2 linked regions of the Homo sapiens genome follow. The protein of the gene in region 2 interacts with the protein of the main gene of each other region in a pairwise test. Each region holds a gene or a part of one and is shown on either strand. Other genes may lie near its edges.

Region 1 (5,335 bases), on a different chromosome or scaffold from region 2:
AGGAGTTCGAGACCAGCCTAGCCAACATGGTGAAATCCCGTCTCTACTAAAAATAGGAAAAATTAGCCGGGCGTGGTGGCAGGTGCCTATAATCCCAGCTACTCGGGAGGCTGAGGCAGGAGAATTGCTTGAACCCGGGAGGTGGAGGTTTCAGTGAGCCGAGATCAAGCCATTGCACTCCAGCCTGGGGGACAAGAGTGAGACTTCTCCTCAAAAAAAAAAAAAAAAAAAAAAAAAAAAATCTAGAACAGTGATCCCTCCAAAGAGCAGTCTTCTTTAATTACAGGGTAGAATATTTTCCTCAATTTTGCCAGACTAGATCAGAGTGGAAGCTTCTCCTCTCAGAAGTATTCCTAAATACAAAATCCTTGCATTAATATTATCAGACAAAAAGTTATTTTCCCTAAATTATACATTCTTTTTTCAATTTTGACTTCTCGGATTTAGTTCTCTATTATAGTAAATTAATGACAAAAGTATAATTTCTCTGAGTGTCCTCTCTCGTCTAATTTTTAAAAAGTCTGGGTAAAACACGTTTTTCTACAATCACTGTTATAACTAATGCAACTCTATTTTCTGAGTACTAGAGTACAACCAAAAAACGGTCTGTATTTATCATTCAAATTATACTTGTGATTTTCACCTACACACAATTTTATATTTGTAAATGTAGAATCATTACTTAAAACTCAGAGAAACAAAATTTGACATTGAGGGGAAAGTAATTTGTTCACTTATAGCTACTTTTAAAGTTTGGAAACATAAAATTATGTTAAAAGAAGTGTTCTATTCATAATTCTAAGTTTACATGTCAAATTTAACATGCCCAAATAATACTTTCCTATAATGGAATGACAACCCAAAAAATACACTCAAAATAATAAACACAAAATTCAAAAAGTAACACAAAATAATCCTACCCCAGCAGTTGTTCCCTAATCTACAAAATAAGGTCAGACCAAATGATTTCTTAACTTTCAATTCTGACATTTTTTTAAATAGATAATGGAATCAAACACTAGTCACCTTTAGCTTTATATTACCTCAGAAGTCACTTACTTTTTAACCTCTCAGTAAAGATACTGAGAGTTATTTAAAAGGTATCGGCTAAGATATTATCTCCTGATCCAACAATCCCACTTCTGGGCATTTATCCAGAAGACTTGAAATCCGTATGTCAAAGAGAAGTCTGCACTCCACGTTCACTGCAGACAAGTCACAATTATCAAGTTATTCAATCAACCTAAATGTCCATCAATGGATGCATGGATAAAGAAAATGTGGCATATATACACAATAAAATACTATTTGGCCTTTAAAAAGGTAGAAATTGTGTCATTTGCAACAATATGGATGAACCTGGAGGACATTATGGTAAGTGAAATAAGCCAAGCACAGAAAGACAAATACCACATGATCTCACTTATTTGTGTAATCTAAAACAATTAAACTCACAGAAGTAGAGAGAAGAATGATGGTTGCTAGAGGCCGGGGATGTGGGAATGGGGAGATGATAATCAAAAGATACAAAGCCTCAATTAGATAGAAGGAGCATGTTTGACTTTTTTTAGATCTATTACACAACATGGTGAATACAGCTAATAATTAAGCACTGTACATTTCAATACTGCTGAGAGTAAATTTCAAATGTTTTCATCACAAAATATGTCAAATATTTGAGGTGATGGATAGATTAGCTTTATTTAATCCCACATTATATTCAAAAATCATAATGCCACTTTGTTTCTCATAAGTATATACAACTATAATTTGATATATAATAAAAAAAATCTAAAAAGGTAGTCTCCTAACAATCATATGAAGACTATCCTAAAATGTCCTTTAGTAACTGTCATGGACTGAAAAGTATCCCACGAAGAGACAATGTCTACTCAGATCATGTGAATACAAACTTACTTGGAACATGGGTCTTTGTAAACATAATTAAGGGTCTCCAGACACAATCACCCTAGATCAGGGTGGGCCCTACATTCAAAGACACTGTCCTTAAAAGGTAATGAAGAGAAGACAGAGGGAAAGGCCGTGTGAACACAGAGGCAGAGACTGGAGTGAAGATTGCTGTCTGCAATACTTGGACAAGATTTGTCCAGAAGCCAAAGAACTCCAAGAATTGCACACAGCCACAAGATATTAGGAAACAGACATAGAATGTCTGTTTATGGATTCTTCCTTAGAGCCTCCAGAAGGAACCAACTCTGCTGACACTTTGATTTTAGACTTCTGGCCTCCAGACTGTGAGGAAAATTGTTGTAAGCACCCAAGTTTGTCGTCATTTGTTATGGAAGCCCTGGGAAGCTAATACAATATGTATTTCAGAAAGGAAATCCCCCTTTTAAAGGATTATAATCAATACAATTTGTCTTTGGCCATCATACATTTCATATTAGGAATTAGTGAAAGAGCTTCATCATTTCTAGATTGTAAACAATAACCAACAATTTGATGTCTAGACAGGCATATATGAGTCTCTACTTTATCATTTACTATCTATGCATTTGTATTTTGACTTAGAATTAAAATTATATTACTGAAATGTTAAGCAACTTTTCAATCAAGAATATCACCTGACCATTTGTAAATATTTGCTAATACATTGTTATTAGGTTGGTAAAAAAGTAATTGTGGTTTTGCCATTACTTTCAATGGCAAAAACCACAATTACTTTTGCACTAACCTAATATTTCTCTCTGAAGAGAATAAATTCATTCCAGTAATATGAAGCATACCCAGTTTTAATAAACTTGTACATACAAAACATTCCCAAGCTTTTTAAGGGGCCAACATTATGAGAGTGATATGAGATATCTGAAAACAATTTTATTTTTCCATTTTTCAGGCTTTTGAAGCAGGTCTTAAGCTTTCTCAGTTCTTTGCCACTTAATTTCTTACATATGTTTAAAATATATATAAAAAAAACTAATGTAATTTGAAGACCACCACTGCACCTAAAAGAAATTCCATGTTTTCCACCTATTCAGTTGTTCTTTGTAGAAATGGTCTAATTATTAAGTCCATTTTCACAGTTCGAAATATCACTGATATTACCACATAAACCTTTGAATGTCCTGACTATTTGGCCACTGAAAAGTCTTGTTCAGAAAGATGAAAAAAGTTATGAAATTAACAACTGCATAGCAGCTCAGTTCACAAATGAGTCTGGATGTGGGAGGCAGAGGTATGTTAAGCCTATAAATGACATAAGGTAAAATGAAGTAACGAAATTCCAGCAGTTTCTGAGGAACTATAACAGTGAACAAGCATATGAAAAACATTAAATTCCAAAAAATTGACTTTGATTTCAATGAGTCAGCTATACTCCAACCAGCAAATATATAGGCTGGAACTAACAAATATTTTACAGTTTCATATCTTTGAAAAACTCTTTTCCACACATAGAAAGTATAATGTCTATTGTCTGCTAGCAAGTATTTATGAGCATAAGTGAATTTCCAAACTAAAAACACAGAGACTAAGGTAACCACAAAAAACAGAATTCTACGTTTCCAAACTAAGGAAAGAAAAGTCTTAATTTTGCTAGGAGACAGGAGATGAGGAAAGGAAAAAAAGAGAGTAAATGAAAAAAAGTAGAATAGTTGAGGAAAATGAAGACAGGCTTCATGACTACTCCGATCGCCAATAACAATTCCACCATTAACTACTACAAAAGCACAAAACAGAAATCCCAGAAGGATGTAGGGCCAAGTCAGAAGCAAAAGCATACTCAAGTTTTTAAAGGACATGGAATAAGCCAAAAGAAACTGAAGAATTTTTCTGAATTCTGCAAATGGTCCTTTAATAGGTGGAAGTCTGTCTTCCTTCTTTTGTAGCTCAGTTTTCCAAGCCTCCGTTAACTTTTGTGCAATGACATTTCCTGCACAGAAGACAGCCCAGATGATATTTGTTTGCCGAAACATGAAGCCACAAAATCCAAGGAAGGCTGAAGTTTTATGATTTCCATAAAGACACATCAAATACGCAAAAAGAGTAAAAAACATAGATCCTGCTTCTGTATAATAAAGGAAGTTAAAAAAATAAAGTGTTGGAAATACTGCTAGTGTTAATGTTGACAAGACTCTCTGGATACTTGAGGCAGCCTTGGAGGAAGAAGAAACACAGATAAAATTATTTTCATGACAAAAAATGCTATTTCTGCTTACCTAATGAAGAAATTTATTTAAAAACTACTCAACTACTCAAACCTTCTTTAAATAAAATTAATCAATATTAATCTTATCTCTGGCTTTGCAAAAACACAATATACATTTATAAGAACACTTCCTGGTACTTTTTATGTATACCTATCAGTTTGGAGACCATGTGTATGCCAAATCTTCTATAGCTTAACACAATTGGAATCAGGCAATGATTAGTTAAGGAGTTATTGAGTGCAAGATACTAACTAAGTTCTATGTGGACTATGGAGATAAATAGGACACGGTGCTGGCTCCATTTCCCTGAGCTTATGTTTTAGTGCCTTCAGTAAGGATTCACTTAGCCATAATGAACCACTTTCCTTTAAGGAAATCCTTCATAACTCTACACAAGGGAGAATATAAACATGCATATGGTATACTACCATACCCAGACTTACTTTTTCAAGATGAAATTTTCATGATGAAATAACAGGTATTTTTCTGAAAAGTGAGCCTGTCTAAAGTTATATATCTTCTTTTGGCCTTTCTGACATGCTGTTTCAGAATTTGAAAGTGTTCTTATGTTCTTGAATTGTATACTCCACTTAATCTAAATCACCAAATCAGACCATGCCATTTCCTTGATTAAAATTAAGGTCTTTACATTACATGCTAAAGTTCAAAGTCCTCTCTGTGACACATAAGGGCATTCATGACCTACTTCTCTAGCCTTACATCCCTCTACTTTTTAATCCTGTAATTCCAAGACCAATTCCCTGCAACTCGTTGTTCAATGCCTTTCTTCCTTTTCTTATGTTGTTTGTCTCCCCAGGATTAATTCCCCACCCTACACAGCCCTATCCGTTCATCAAGACTCAGCTCTGGTACCATCTTCTCTGTGAGGACTTACCAAATGCCACATACTCCCCTCCCTCCCAGAAAAGCAGTAAGTGTTCCCCTGCTCCTTCTCTGTATCCTCATAGCATCTTATGTTTACCACTCTATCATAACTGACACTACTGAAATCATCTCTTAAGGTTAAAAATAATTATTAGAGTTAATATTTACTGAACCCTTACTATATCTCTGGCACTGTTCGAAGCATCTTCCATTTATTAAGTTTCTTTGTTCCTTTATAACAGTTCTATAAGGCAGATTCTATTGTTATTCTTATTTAATAC
Region 2 (9,028 bases):
TGCCTTAGATCTTTGACTTAACTCTAACTGTTGTTGTGGATATTCCTTATCTAATTTAGAAGATCTGTATCTTCTCCTGTATGTTTATGATCACCTATGGGAAACTTTAAAAAAATATATTAGTATATTCCTTCTGCTTAGACAGTTGACATTTTAGCTTTGCCAATGTGACTTCTTGCTGTTATTGGCAATATGTAGTTTCAAATTGCTAACATGGTGTAATACCCACTCCCTCAAAAATAGTGGAATTTGCAGCAGGTTTTTTTTTCTTTCTTTCCTCTTTTTTTTTTTTAAACAATTTTTTAGAGCTGTTTTAGGTTTATAGCAAAATTGAACAGAAAGTACAGCAATTTCTCTTACATTCTCTGACCCCACATAGGCACAGCCTGCCCCACTATCAGCATCCCACACCAAAGTAGTACATTTGTTACAATCAGTGAGCTTACATTGACATACATTATCACCCAAAGTCAGTAGTTTATGTTAGGGTTCACTCTTGGTGTTGCACTTTCTATGAGTTTTGGCAAATATATAATGACATGTCTCCACCAGTATAGTATCACTTAGAATAGCCCTAAAAACCTCTGTATTCTGGCTGTTCTTTTTTTTTCTCTTGTTTTTATGCTGGTGCTCAGAAATAAAATATATTTCGGTATAGTCCTTTCTGCCATCTGCTCTTTGAAATATAGATATATTAATTATTTTATGCCAAGGATAGCTTAAATCTACACATGAAGACTTTTAAAAAGATTTTTGCTGCCAGGAATGGTTTCAGGCCAAACAACTTAAAATAAAAACTGCTTCAGTCAAAGAACTCTTGTGCCCCTATATAAAACATTTTGAGTAATACATTTATGTTTTGAATAGTTCTTTCAACTGTTTTTATTAAAGTCAATGTACCCCTTTACTTTTTTCAGTTAAATACTGCCATTAGCTTTACCTATTTAGTCACAAAATGTTTTATAGAAACATTCCCAAGATAAATAAATTCTGTGAATTAATTGTGATTAATAATGACCTTTTGGAACTAGGTTTCTAAGGATCAACATCTTATACTTGTATGCTTGTTAATATTCTGTATTAAGAAGCTAAGGGAGACGTTGAAAATTAGGAGTGTCTTCAACCTCCTTTGCCAGGCGTACCTTCTGTCATGCTGTCTCTGAAGCCTTTCTTTAGCATTCTAACCCTTAGTAACTCCTTCCTCCAAACTCCTAAAGCAATTAAGGTTGGGCTTCTCAGTTTCATGAAAAAAAGACTGTTCTCTGTGTTTCTCTAATTGTGCTGTAGTGCACTAGTCTACCCTCTTAACAATATCATGAGCCTCTTTAAGGAAGGGCCTGTTGTACCCTTTCTTGGATTTGTCTCCAAATTAAGCACAATTATAGGTTCATGGTAGGCAAGTGATACATTCATAGTTTCTAGTAGCTTTGTTTCCCTTTCTCCCCATTTGGTTATCTTTCTTTCTGCTCCTTTTTCTTTGTCATTCTGTTCTTTTCTTTTTAAAAAACTAGCTGACTCATCCTTCATTGTTCTCTGTCCTCCTTTATTCCTTCTTTCCTTTCCCCATCTTATTTGCTGGCTTTATGTCTAAGTATAAATAAATATGCTTATGATCTCACTAAGCTAAAATGCCAACCCTAATCGTTATTTGGAATATTTTTCTTCAGTCATATTTCTAGGTTTATGGAAAAACATGGGATATTTACAGAATATAGTTTAAATGTATGCTTTATATCTGCGTATAGGTGTTATAGATAAAAATAGTTTTTGACTGAAAAAAAGAGTAAAAAAAATCACCTTGCTAAAATTAAGGCAAATGTGATTATGATGAAGTTATTTGAGTTTATTTTATAGTTGCTAAGCCTCAAGTGATGGAAATATGTAAACTGTAAAAAGTTTAAGGTGCTAGATGTTTTCATGCTGAAATTATAGATTGTGCTGTTACAACTTTCACAACATTGTTTGCTTTAAGACTGCTTCGTATGCAAAATAATTTTTTAACCCAGCAATTGCAGAGTATTTAGATCATTTTCCAAGTATGGAGAAAATATTGAATTCAAAAGGATCACAAATAAAATGACAAATTTACCTTCAAATGATAACAATTTATCAGTAATTAAATGGCTAGGCTCGAAAGGGACCTAAGTTTTAGGTATTTCAGTTTAGCTACTGACTTTTTGAACTGTACATTTTGTAGTACTACCCTTTAAATGTAATCTTCTTTAATTTTAGCAAGATGAGTATCATATGGTTCATCTAGTATGTACTTCTCGGACTCCTCCCAGTTCTCCAAAATCCAGCACCAATAGAGAAAGTCATGAAGCATTGGCATCCAGCAGCAATTCTGTGAGTTGTTTTGGGAGGAGTAAACATTGAACTTTTCTTTTTTTTTCGTCGTCGTCTTATTTTTTGCCTCTAAAAACTAAATGAAAAACAGAACAATTGGAGCTTGTGAATTTTGAGATTGTGTTTTGAACTAAAGTTAGGCATTTTGTAAAGTTTACCATTTTGAAAGATCTAATACGCAGTGTTATCCCTTGAAGTCTATTCACCTTGAGTTATAATTTGCTGTATGGCAGGTCAGTAATAGATTTAATCTTCAAAGGTTTAATTACTGGAATACTCAGAAAACGGAATTATGTTACGGTTATATAATATAAACTCTTAGGCCAATGACGTTTCAGAAATATGCCAGGTATTTAAAATAGTATATTTTATTCAAGGTGGATTAAATTGTTTAAAATTTAAGTACCCTAAATCTTCTTGAAGTAGATGACTTGGTCAAGGATTTTGTTTTTTAAAAATGACTGGATTTGGGTGTACATTCCACCTGCTTGGGGAGGAAATACTTAATGTATTAATCTCTTTCAGACTTGGGTATTCATTCCTCCATCCTTATTTTTCCATCTGCCTAAAATTGTTTTGGAAATGTTTTGTAATAGTTGACCTTCTCAATTTAGACATTTTCTACAAATTTCAAAAACATTGTCCCCAATCCTTTTATGTTATTTTTGATTTCCCATAAAAGCTTTCTATGACACCTTTGCAGGTGAGAGGATTGGATGAGTGGAAGCTTGCTTTCAACTTCTTGAGCAGTCAGGGAACTTTTCTACTGCTAAGTATGCTTTCCTTGTCAAGACTCCAGCCAAAGCTTGAAAGAGAGCACAAGTGACAGGGGTGGGAGCTAGTTGAAAACTCTCTCAATAGATACTAGTTAACTGCTTCTTTAAGAAACTAGCTTCTCCAGTTGCTGTATTTAATTTGTATTCTCTTAATGGTAACTATTTCCTAGTACCAGCCATGGGAATTTAGCTTACATTAAACTAAATAAAATATGCCTTGTCAAAACACCCAAGGGTCTTTGTATGTTTCCTGCCTTGGCATGGAAAGGCACAGACATTGGCATTGGCACAGAGTTTTTTTTTGTAGTCGTCGGACACAGTTGCATTGCTTCAATTTTTGTTGGGAAAGAACCCTCTGACTTTGACTTGTCCAGTGGGTTGCTCAGCCATGATTTTGTGTCATTAGTGTGTATATTTGTTTTTTTCAGTGTTATGAAAGCCTGAAAAGTATCAAAGGAATGTTAAGTTGAATTCACCTTAATTTTTCATGGTTCAGAAATTTCAAGGGACTTGAAAATATTTTAAAGATCTAATCATAAAATAATTACCTAATAAGGTCAGAAATCATTAGTTCTAGAGAAATTAGGTTGTGCTGCCAAATGACTAGGCTTTTCTTCTAATAATTGTATTAATGAACACCGTATTATGATGGCCCATTTAATGAGAAATCTTGCTGAAAAAGAAACCTTTCCCAGTTTATGTTCCTAAGAATCCGGACTCCTTAGTAAGATATTTGATATCTATTGTGTGTGAAGTAACATTTTAAAAGTTTTTGTTAGTCTTGCAAAAGACTGGTGTGGACTGTTTTGCAAAAGACAGTTTTGGACCTTTCACATTGCAGGACTTAGCATGGGAGTCATGCAAAAAGACATCCTGTCAATAGGAAGGCAGTACGGGTAAAATACAATTTAACAAAATTGTTAAAGGAAGGATGTTAAAATAATACTGTACCTAGCTTTTTAAAGTGGAAGAACTATAATTTATGTAAAATGTAATTGTGTTTTAAATGTACATGAAACACTTGACAAACTATTTTCAAACAAATTGGGATGGTCTTCAGGGAGTTATATTGTTTATGGTTACTGAATCCATGAGCACGAGAATAAAAAGATTTGAGCATGAGAATAAAAAAATACTGATTAACATCTTGATTCTCGTAGTTCATTTTGTAAAAAAGCAATATTTGTTGGTGATTTCTATAAACTAATAGAATTCTAGAACTGAAAGGAATCTTGAAAATTTAGTCCAATCTCATTTTCTGTAGGAAAGTGGAAACTCTGAGAGGTTAAGTGAACCTTTAAGGTTATAACTCTTGTTAATGTCAGAGATAACACTAGATTTTAGATCTTTTGATTTCTAGGATTTCTAGCCTGTTTCTCATTACTTTAAATCAATATGTTAACAATAGCATGTTGTACAGTACTTGGCACATAGTAACTGTTTAAATGACTCAGTAATTAGTACCATTTATTGAACACTTTCAATAAATGTATGTGTTAGGCATCATGAAAGGAGCTTTGCATGCATTAATTTAATCATGTGAAAAGAGCTTTTTATGCATTAACTTAATCCTCAGAATTTAATATGCTGTTTTTGTATATTATTATTCTGCTCCTCGGCCATTTCTAGTTGAAAAAATGGAATATTTTAGTTTAATTAAGCAGTTTTGATAAGTTTTGACGTACTAAAATTAAAATATCTACTTATACTGGACACACGATGTAAAACAGTAAATTTCTGAAATGTTATTTTGCAGAGGGATTTCATGAATACGTTTTTAGTAATGTGCCTGTAATTTTATGATTGTAAAGAACTAAATCTCCTTTTAAAAATTACATTTTTATTTGTAGAGTTCAGATCATTCAGGATCAACAACTCCATCATCTGGTCAAGAAACCTTGTCTTTAGCTGTGGGTTCTTCCTCAGAAGGATTGAGGCAGCGTACCCTTCCACAAGCACAAACTGACCAAGCACAGAGTCACCAGTTTCCATATGTAATGCAAGGGTAAGTGAAATTGTGGTAGCTATGGAATGTGATTGGGGCCCCCTAAAAATGAATTGCTTTTGAGTTTCACTATAGCCTCTTTGCAGTAATTAAAGTACATTTTAAATTTATTCATATATTTGATTTTGTATTTTGAGAACTAGAGGGTTAAGAAGAGCACTGCTTTTCAAACCTGGCTGCACATGAGAATCATGTAGGGCAGTGCTTTCAATCTTGAATGTTTGTCCTAATCACCGGGAGACCTTGTTGAGCTGCAGGTTTGTATTCAATAGGTATGATGGGGCCTGAGAATCTGCATTTCTGACAAGCTCCCAGATGATGCTAATGCTTCTGATGTTTGGACTACACTTTGAATAGCAAGGATCTACGTAACTAATTTTTTTTTACTCAGTCTCACTATAGATCTACTCAATTTAGTGTTTAGGGGAATGTGGTTGAGTGAAGGTATACTTGAAAGAGTACAGAGCCCAGCAATCTGTTTTTAAAAGTTTTTAAACGTTCCACAAGTGTTTCTAATCAACTTGGTAACAACTGTGCTAGAGTAAAACCATGATGTATTACAGGGATATGCTAATCTTGCTGCATGTTGTCCAGAATCTTTGTTGTATTGAGAGTTTTATAAAGCAGTTTTCTTAAGAAGCTTGCCATAGTCACCCTATATTTAGCAATTACAGCAGGCCCCTTGGGTTAGGCACTTCCAGAGGAAATGCAGCCACAGGTAAAGCAGCTTAGAGAGTAGGATCTTGGAGAACATGGTTTGGACCAGGGTTGTGTGTGAAAGCAGACTGTTTTACTGGGGTATTATTGTTTGTTATTTTTGAGGTAAAGGAAGCTTGAGTAACAGATAGTGATAATTTCTGTGTTGCGTATCAAGCCATGGGGCTGCAGTGTGTGGCACTGGTCTGGATCCATGATGATGGAGCTAGAAATGAGAATATGGCTAGGACCTCAGAATTGTAATGTAGGTGGTGTAACCAAGGAGTAGCTATTGACTGCTGTGCTCAACAGGACGGCATAAACACTCAGGTACTTTTTACTTAGAACTTTAAACTTAATTCAGTTATTAATACAGAAAAACAAAGCTGAATATATAGCAAATAGAAGAGAACTAATTTGTCTCAGATTTCTTAAATGTGAAGCCTTTTCTTTCAAAATAAATGTTTAGATGAGGCTGGTTGTAGACTTTCATAAAGTACCTGTGAAACTATTTTTGTTTTCAGAAAGTGATTACTATTAATATAAACCAAGATTTACTTGTAAAAAGCAGTGTTCTCAGGGTTTATATTATGGAACAGTAGCTTCAAATACTTTGTCTTATGACAGTAATTCACTTCCTTTCTTTTTCACAGAGTAAGTTCCTCTCAGTTTATACAGAGTGATTTTACTTATTTTATTTGGTGGTAGTGGTGGAAGGTGGGAGTATTATAAATAAGCCTGGAAAAATATATAGTGCCACATTAATAGTGGTTATCTCTGGATAAAATTTATAACTCTTTCTCTTACTTACAGTGAATATATTTTGTAATAAACAAATCAAGCTTATAAGATTACAGGTCTTCAGAATAAGACCATAGATACATTGGTAAAAGATTAATAATTTCTCTAAACTAGGCTATTGAGAAAATTAATAAACATAAAAGACAAAAGCATTCAGCTCTTCGAAGTATATTAAGCTGATTAGAAAAATCTGAAATAGGTGGCGCCAAGATGGCCGAATAGGAACAGCTCCAGTCTGCAGCTCCCAGCATGAACGATGCAGAAGATGGGCGATTTCTGCATTTCCAACTGAGGTACCAGGTTCATCTCACTGGGGCTTGCCAGACAAATAGGTGCAGCCCATGGAGCAGGGCGGGGCATCGCCTCACCTGGGAAGCGCAAGGGGTCGGGGAATTCCCTTTACTACAAAAGGGAAGCCGTGAGAGACTGCACCTGGAAAATCGGGATACTCCCACCCTAATACTGCACTTTTCCAATGGCCTTAGCAAACGGCTCACCAGGAGATTATATCCCGCGCCTGGCTCAGAGGGTCCCATGCCCAAGGAGCCCTGCTCATTGCTAGCACAGCAGTCTGAGATCAAACTGCAAGGCGACAGCAAGGCTGAGGGAGGGGCATCTGCCATTGCCGAGGCTCGAGTACATAAACAAAGTGGCCAGGAAGCTCGAACTGGGTGGAGCCCACCTCAGCTCAAGGAGGCCTCCCTGCCTCTGTAGACTCCACCTCTAGGGGCAGGGCATAGCTGAACAGAAGGCAGCAGAAACTTCTGCAGACTTAAATGTCCCTGTGTGACAGCTTTGAAGAGAGTAGTGGTTCTCCCAGCACTGAGTTTGAGATCTGAGAACAGACAGACTGCCTCCTCAAGTGGGTCCCTGACCCCCGAGTAGCCTAACTGGGAGGCATCTCCCAGTAGGGGGGCGACTGGCACTTCATAAGGCTGGGTGCCCCTCTGAGATGAAGCTTCCAGAGGAAGGATTAGGCAGCAACATGAGCTCCTTGCCAGCAGCGGAACAAAGCTGTATGGAGAATGACTTTGACGAGTCGAGAGAAGGCGGCTTCAGACAATCGGTAATAACAAACTTCTCCCAGCTAAAGGAGGATGTTTGAACCCATCACAAAGAAGCTTAAAAACCTTGAAAAAAGAGTAGACAAATGGCTAACGAGAATAAACAGCATAGATAAGTCCATAAATGACCTGATGGAGCTGAAAACCATGGCACAAGAACTACGTGATGCATGCACAAGCTTCAGTAGCTGATTTGATTAAATGGAAGAAAGGGTATCAGTGATTGAAGATCAAATGAATGAAATGAAGTGAGAAGAGAAGTTTAGAGAAAAAAGAGTAAAAAGAAATGAACAAAGCCTCCAAGAAATATGGGACTATGTGAGAAGACCAAATCTACATCTGATTGGTGTACCTGAAAGTGATGGGGAGAATGCAACCAAGTTGGAAAGCACTCTTCAGGATATCATCCAGGAGAACTTCCCCAACCTAGTGAGGCAGGCCAACATTCAAATTCAGGAAATACAGAGAACACCACAAAGATACTCCTCGAGAATAGCAATTCCAAGACACATAATTGTCAGATTCACCAAAGTTGAAATGAAGAAAAAAATGTTAAGGGCAGCCAGAGAGAAAGGTCTCATTACCCACAAAGGGAAACCCATCAGACTAATAGCTGATCTCTCGGCAGAAACTCTACAAGCCAGAAGAGAGTGGGGGCCAATATTCAATATTCTTAAAAGAATTTTCAACCCAGAATTTCATATTCAGCCAAACTCAGCTTCATAAGTGACGGAGAAATAAAATCCTTTACAGACAAACAAATGCTGAGAGATTTTGTCACAACCAGGCCTGCCTTACAAGAGCTCCTGAAGGAAGCACTAAAACACGGAAAGGAACAACCGGTACCAGCCCTGCAAAAACATGCCAAATTGTAAAGACCATCTATACTAGGGAGAAACTGCATCAACTAATGAGCAAAATAACCAGCTAACATCATAATGACAGGCTCAAATTCACACATAATAATATTAACCTTAAATGTAAATGGGCTAAATGCTCCAATTAAAAGACACAGACTGGCAAATTGGATAGAGTCAAGACCCATCTGCTGTATTCAGGAAACCCATCTCACGTGCAGAGACACACATAGGCTCAAAATAAAGGGATGGAGGAAGATCTACCAAGCAAATGGAAAACAAAAAAAAGGCAGGGATTGCAGTCCTAGTCTCTGATAAAACAGACTTTAAACCAACAGATCAAAAGAGACAAAAGGCCATTACATAATGGTAAAGGGATCAATTCAACAAGAGGAGCTAACTATCTTAAATATATATGCACCCAATACAGGAGGACCCAGATTCATAAAGCAAGTCCTTAAAGACCTACAAAGAGACTTAGAC

Evidence for each region. The genes of interacting proteins can lie anywhere in the genome.
Region 1: the proteins of HERPUD2 (region 2) and ALG10 interact in binary tests that used the Homo sapiens proteins (3 or more experiments, as listed by UniProt).

The regions. Positions count from the first base shown.
Region 1 is NC_000012.12:34,024,643-34,029,977, reverse strand, and holds the end of ALG10 (dol-P-Glc:Glc(2)Man(9)GlcNAc(2)-PP-Dol alpha-1,2-glucosyltransferase), read right to left. Parts: intron 4,116-5,335; coding exon 3,063-4,115; 3' UTR 1,676-3,062; downstream 1-1,675. UniProt on the Homo sapiens protein: Dol-P-Glc:Glc(2)Man(9)GlcNAc(2)-PP-Dol alpha-1,2-glucosyltransferase that operates in the biosynthetic pathway of dolichol-linked oligosaccharides, the glycan precursors employed in protein asparagine (N)-glycosylation.
Region 2 is NC_000007.14:35,663,533-35,672,560, reverse strand, and holds part of HERPUD2 (homocysteine-responsive endoplasmic reticulum-resident ubiquitin-like domain member 2 protein), read left to right. Parts: intron 1-2,232; coding exon 2,233-2,346; intron 2,347-4,972; coding exon 4,973-5,127; intron 5,128-9,028. UniProt on the Homo sapiens protein: Could be involved in the unfolded protein response (UPR) pathway.